Linked DNA regions of Homo sapiens. The protein of the gene in region 1 interacts with the protein of each later gene in a pairwise test. Each region holds a gene or a part of one and is shown on either strand. Other genes may lie near its edges.

Region 1 (2,461 bases):
ATGTGTGGTCTGGTTGTTGTGAGGGAGGGAGTACCGCAAGATGGATATTGCTAGAGCCTGTACCCTGCTCCTGGGATGTCCCCGTCTCTGTCCTGGGGCGATTGCTTCTCCCTCCTGAATAGTCAGGGGAGAGTGTCACCTTGACAGAGGGGTTTACAGTGTCACCATTGTCACCACCAGAGGGCAGCAGCCAGCCAGACCTCTGCTTCTCTCAAGGTCTTGTCTCCTGGCTCTCTTTATCTTTCCAAATCTTGTCCCAGCTGCTTCTGGTCTCATTCAACCCCAGGAGCACAGGTGGGAGAGTAGAGAGGCACTGGAAGCTGTAGGTGGTGTCCTTTGCCACTGTCTTGGTGAAGTCCCCAAGAGGTTAAACCCAGTTCCCAAAGCCACACCAAAGTCTTGCCAAGATTTCAACCTGACTCTTCTGTGTGACTGCCGGACCCCTGAGAGCAACAGGGAGGCCATTCCCAGATCATCTGTGAGACCTGGCTGGGGGTCCCAGACCCCAGCTATGGTATAGTAAGCTTTGGTCAGCTCCTTCCTTTTTGAGGGCATGAGGAAGGCAAAGCTGCAGTCAAGCGTTCATGAAGCAGTCTATGCCCCATGTAAACAGCGTGGCTGGTTAGTTAACCTCTCTGAGCCCTTCTCATTGGCTGAATTCATGACTGATGAGTAGTGAGAGAATATGAGTGAAGGTGATTTGTAAACTATGATGTGTCAAACACATTTAAGGGACAATGATGATACTAGAGAAAAAACACTGGACTCAGGCTCAGATGTGGGTTTGAGATCTGTCTGCCATTTACAGTGGGTGACTTTTGGGAAAGTCAGTTAACTTCTCTGGGTCTCCAATACCATCTGAAACCTCTCTAGAGTTGTAGGCACTGGGCCTATTTGAGGGGTTGTTTTTGCTAAGACCCTGGGAATGCCTCCTGTAGCTCAGCAGAAGGACCAGGGCCAGGTGGGTATTCCTGGTGGAAGCAAAGTCAGCTGACTGGGCACCCTCAAATGAACTTTTGTGGTTGTCAGGAACGTGTGACGACGGCTGGAGGCCAACAGAGTCCCTACAGGTGGTGCTCACGGTAATGCACCGACAATGAGTGGCTGTTTTCCAGTTTCTGGCCTCCGCTGCCTATCTAGGGTAAGTGGGTCCCTCCAGGGGTCTCCTAGGATGAGGCCTCAGCCCCCAGTTTCCCATCACCTTTCCATAGGGCCTTGGGAGAGGCCCTATCCAGCCCGTTTTAGGTTTACCCTCACCTCTACTGGGGCTTCATTAATTCCTAGAAGCTTCCATCCCAGGTGTGGGGTCCTGATGCTTTATATCTGCAATTTGAAGGATCCTGGGCCACTGAAATGCCCACTGGATGTTGATGAGACCAGAGGGTGACTCTAGGGATGAGGTGGAAGGGACAGCTTGGTTAGGGAGGCAGATAGCCAATCGAAATCCCAGCTCCGAAATGAGGAGCTTGGGTTTCTGTTTCACAAGGTGTGCCAGGCCATAAGCACACCAGGAATATGAGAGAGGGGCTTAGGAAGAAACCAGAAAGAGAAACAATCCCATCTCAATTAACTGGGGTGGGAGCTGGGCGGGAGAAAAGCAGTGTGTGGGTATCTGGAAGCTGCATGTCACCTGCTCACTGCCCCTCTGCGCCTCTCACACACTGGCAGGCAAAGGTGATGGAAACTTGCTGCCAAGGGCTCTTGCTGCCTCCATTGCTTGCCTTTCCTTGTGCCCAGACATGTCCCCTCTTGTCCTCTGTCCTCTCCCATGCTGCCTACCACCCTCCCCTCCAACAAGAATCTGGCCCAAGGTCTCCGCTTCCTGGAACTCCCTTATCCCTACCCCTACTCTGTCTTCCTGTCCAGCAGTCTGTCTCCAAGATCCCCTAGAATGACCTCCTCTCAGCCCTCTCCTCCACACCCCCCAAGTCCCCACTACCTGGCCCCTCCCACTCCTCTGCCTTTTCAGCCACTGCTGCTCTCTTCTCTTCTCCCTTACCTGTCTCCCAGGTGTGTCATGGCCTGGTGCGGGAGGCTCTTACCTCCCCAAGCCCCACTGCTTCTCCTGCTGCCCGCTTGCTTCGGACTCTGGCAGAAACCCCACCTGCTGACACGTTCCTCCTGGGGAATTGGCAAGTGATTAGTGATGAGCTGTCAGCACAGGGCCCTAAAACTCCCCGAAGAAGCTGTGCCCCATCCCTAGACCCCTGTTCAGTGCCATTGGGCTAGAAGCAGCTCCCAGAGAGCCATAGATTCCCCATGGCCCAAAAGGAGAATGAGGAAACTGGTCCAGTTGGGTGGATGGGTGGTTGGTTTCCCTTGACTCTACCTCAGGGAATGAGGGAGGGGAGAGTTCCCACCACCCTTTCTTGATCCACACCAACAACAGGGGCCACTGGAAGTCTCCAAAACAGTCCAGTCCAGAAACCTCCCCAAAGTGGTGATCCTTGGAAGCTGCTCT
Region 2 (3,500 bases), on another chromosome or scaffold:
AGAACATCTAATATATATTAGATGTGCCTGGCACATTTCAGCCAATAAATGACAACATCTCAAACTCCTTCAGAATTGAGCTCTTGGTCACTCAAACTTTCAAACTGTTCCCCCTCCATTTTTCATCTCATCCATCCAAGGAGTAGCTCACTCCACTCTCTCTTTTCTTCTATCAGCCCTAGCAAACCAGTCCATCATAAAGTCCTGCTGTCCATTTTTATTGCAAAATCTCTTTCAAACCGGTCTGATTTTCAGTCCCCACTATTCTGCCATCCTAATGCAAGCCACTGTACTGTATTATCTTTTTCCTTGGTGCGGTGCCTCCTGCACACACTCTGCACCCCTTGCAGTCTGTTTTACTACCAGCAGCCTGAAAAAAAAAAGAAAAAGTATTTGCCGTCTTAAAGTTGTCAGGGCTCTCAGGAAACACATTTATTTATTTTTGGGATAAGATACCAAATCCTTGACATTACTTCAGGATCCTGCATGATTTGATCTCTACATCCACTTGCATCTCTTGCTGTCATCTTGGCCAGTTCTCCAGCAGACTAGCCTCAGGCCTGTGGCTCATGCTGTTGGTCTCCCTATTTTAGGATCATCTCCTTGAGTAACTTATCATCCTTGGGTGCTAGCTCAAATGTCCTTTCTCATAAAGGTCTTCTCTGACAAGCCCACCCTTATCGTCATGCGAATTAAATGTCCTTTATTTTCTCCCTCATAGCGTAATCACTTTTGCTTCTGAATATTTACCACAATTTATATATTATTTAATCACTTAGGGTCCTTTTCTTGCCCTTTAGGTTAATATGAAGTTGATAATACCTGGTTTAATCACCAGTGCCCAGTATATGTAGTAGGTGCTCAATAAATATGTTGATATAATGAGTAAGATCGTAATATCAGTTTGTATCTTTATCTTTTTTTTTTGAAATGGAGTCTTACTATGTTGCCCAGTTGGTCTTAAACTCCTGGCCTCAAGTGATCCTCCTGCCTCAGCCTCCTGAGTAGCTGGGACTACAGGTGTGTGCCACCATGCCTGGCTTCTGTATTTGTATCTTGATTGCCTTCTTTATCACTGTTAAATTTGCTTTTCATGATAGAAAAGCCAGACCCACACTTTTCTATATTCCTTCTTTGCTGGTTATATGTATAATATGAAACGGCCTTTGCAAATATCAGGTAAAAATGCATGTAGGTTCTGTGAAATATTCGTAGTAATAAATTGAGACACCTTTTAATTAGTGTTACCCTTGTGACTTTCTGTTGTACATAATCCTTTTTCTAAATACATCATTAAAATAATTATTTTTTTATCAGCATAAGCTTACTGAAAGGAAAAAAAATCTTACTGTGCCTTACTATTTTACAGAGCGTCACATGATAACACGTTAGTCAGCTGCTGTCGGCTGGTGGTGCCAGACATCAAAGGAAGATTGGGAAAACTTTAGTAGAAAAACAAGACCTAGAGTTCTAAGGATGCTCAGTGCTGTCCAGCTGTTGATGTGACTTGCATGGTAACCAGACATCACTGGACCATACACTTAAGAGAGAGGAGGAGTTTTTTTTAAAAAAAGTGGGAGCCACCTAGAAGTCTGGAAGTTCTTTTCTTCTCTCTCACTAAAGCATTCCTTGTTTTAGCCAAAAAAAAAAAAAAAAAAAAAAGTCTCATGACCTTCCAAGGCCAAGGAAGGCTTACAGCTTTGAGTATTTTTGTCATGTGGTTGCTCTTTACGAAATATTAGCTTGATGTCCTCTAACTCTGAAGTACTTATGTCTGTTATTGATGTTTGTAATCTCTACTTCTTACATAATTCTGCATTTTTCTCTTGACTTGTTTTTTAGGACTTTAGTATTCCTTAAAAATCATTTCCTCACACCCTTAGAGTGTAGTTCTAGTTCTTTCTAGTTTTGTATCTTATAGATCACTGAGTGTGTGGGGGCACTTTGGAGCTGATTCAAGTCCTTCAGAACGTACTCCTCTGCAGTCCACCTCGGGGGTTCCCAAACTGTGATCCTTTGAGTGGTCTGGACCCTGAGGTTTCCGTAGCCTGGGTGCTCTTGGGTTGGGAGAGCAAGGAGGATGAAAGCAGCATTTTTGAGCCCCTGTTGGGTGCTCTCGAAGAGGAGGAGTGAGTAGTTTATCTGGTCAGAATTGGAAAAGTGAAGCTTAGGCTTTCTTTCCATATATTTGCTTCACAAAAGAAAATTGTTCCTTTTGTTCCTACATTTCCCCACTCCTGATTTTCTAGTCAGGAAGGCATGAGAAGAGAGAGATGCCCCTGCAAGCCAGACCCTTACCCTGGTGCTTATTTAGACCTGATTTTAAAAATGTTGAGAGCAAGCCCTGAGAGGGGCACACCAGGTGATTTGCCTCGTGTAGGCCCTCTGTGCCTGCAGGACATTCGCATCACGAGTAGCTGCCACTGTGGAGGAGAGGAAAGTTATGGTTGGGAACCCTTGTTATTTTTTTTCCACCATGTATATATGTCCACTGGTTACTTGGGTGACCTTGAACAAGTTGCCTTGAGCTTTTTAACACCAATAATATTTATTACCCATTTATTTCACAGACTTGCTATAGGATTTAGAAAGCTATTCTTAGCAAGTGTTTTTTTTTTTTTTTAAATCACATTCAGATATATCACAAAATATTGCAGTGAACTGTAGGGCTGTCCAAATTTTATGTATGCAGCAAAATATTTTCTTACTCATTAGCATATGTTTTACTCTTTGTTTTAAAAAGAAATCAGATGTAAATGCAGGTTATAACAAGAGGAGAGCTGTGATGGTTTGCTACCAGGTTTTATGTAGGTAATATATTTTGTCACTGTTGTTATATTTGGTCACTGTTGTTAGCTATCATTGGCTCGTGAGTGCTAAATCATGTTTATCCTTATAGTAATTTTACTATTGGAAAATCGCTTAAGACTAAATTATTCTTCCAGATACAAGTATATATGTTTAAAAGAAATTGGGATTCTCTTTAATGGATAGATATTGGGCAGAAAGTAAGGTTTTACCCTTATTTTTGCTTAAAATATTTGAGTGGATTTATAATCGATGAAACTCTACTGTAAAAATACCAGTGAGAAATAGGGATGTTTTGTAATGTTGAAGGTAAAATTTGTTCATTTCTATGGGAAGTTCTAATACGTTAAATGTCAGAATATCTTATAGTAGTTTATTTGTGCTGTATTTTTTCTTTTTAGTGTATAATGACTTCCCTTATATTTCTTTTTTTAAACAGCTTTATTTAATTAATTAATTTATATATTTTTTGAGACGGAGTCTTGCTCTGTCGTCCAGGCTGGAGTGCAGTGGCACGATCTTGGCTCACTGCAAGCTCCGCCTCCCGGGTTCATGCCATTCTCCCGCCTCAGCCTCCTGAGTAGCTGGGACTACAGGTCCCCGCCACCACGCCCAGCTAATTTTTTACATTTTTATTAGAGACAGGATTTACCATGTTAGCCAGGATGGTCTTGATTTCCTGACCTCGTGAT

The links. The genes of interacting proteins can lie anywhere in the genome.
Region 2: the proteins of PHOSPHO1 (region 1) and RASSF8 interact in a two-hybrid assay, tested with the Homo sapiens proteins (one large-scale study listed by BioGRID and IntAct).

Annotation. Positions count from the first base shown.
Region 1 is NC_000017.11:49,225,327-49,227,787, reverse strand, and holds part of PHOSPHO1 (phosphoethanolamine/phosphocholine phosphatase), read left to right. Parts: intron 1-1,029; 5' UTR 1,030-1,096; coding exon 1,097-1,141; intron 1,142-2,010; coding exon of another isoform or gene 2,011-2,132; intron 2,133-2,461. UniProt on the Homo sapiens protein: Phosphatase that has a high activity toward phosphoethanolamine (PEA) and phosphocholine (PCho). Involved in the generation of inorganic phosphate for bone mineralization.
Region 2 is NC_000012.12:25,961,682-25,965,181, forward strand, and holds part of RASSF8 (ras association domain-containing protein 8), read left to right. Parts: intron 1-3,500.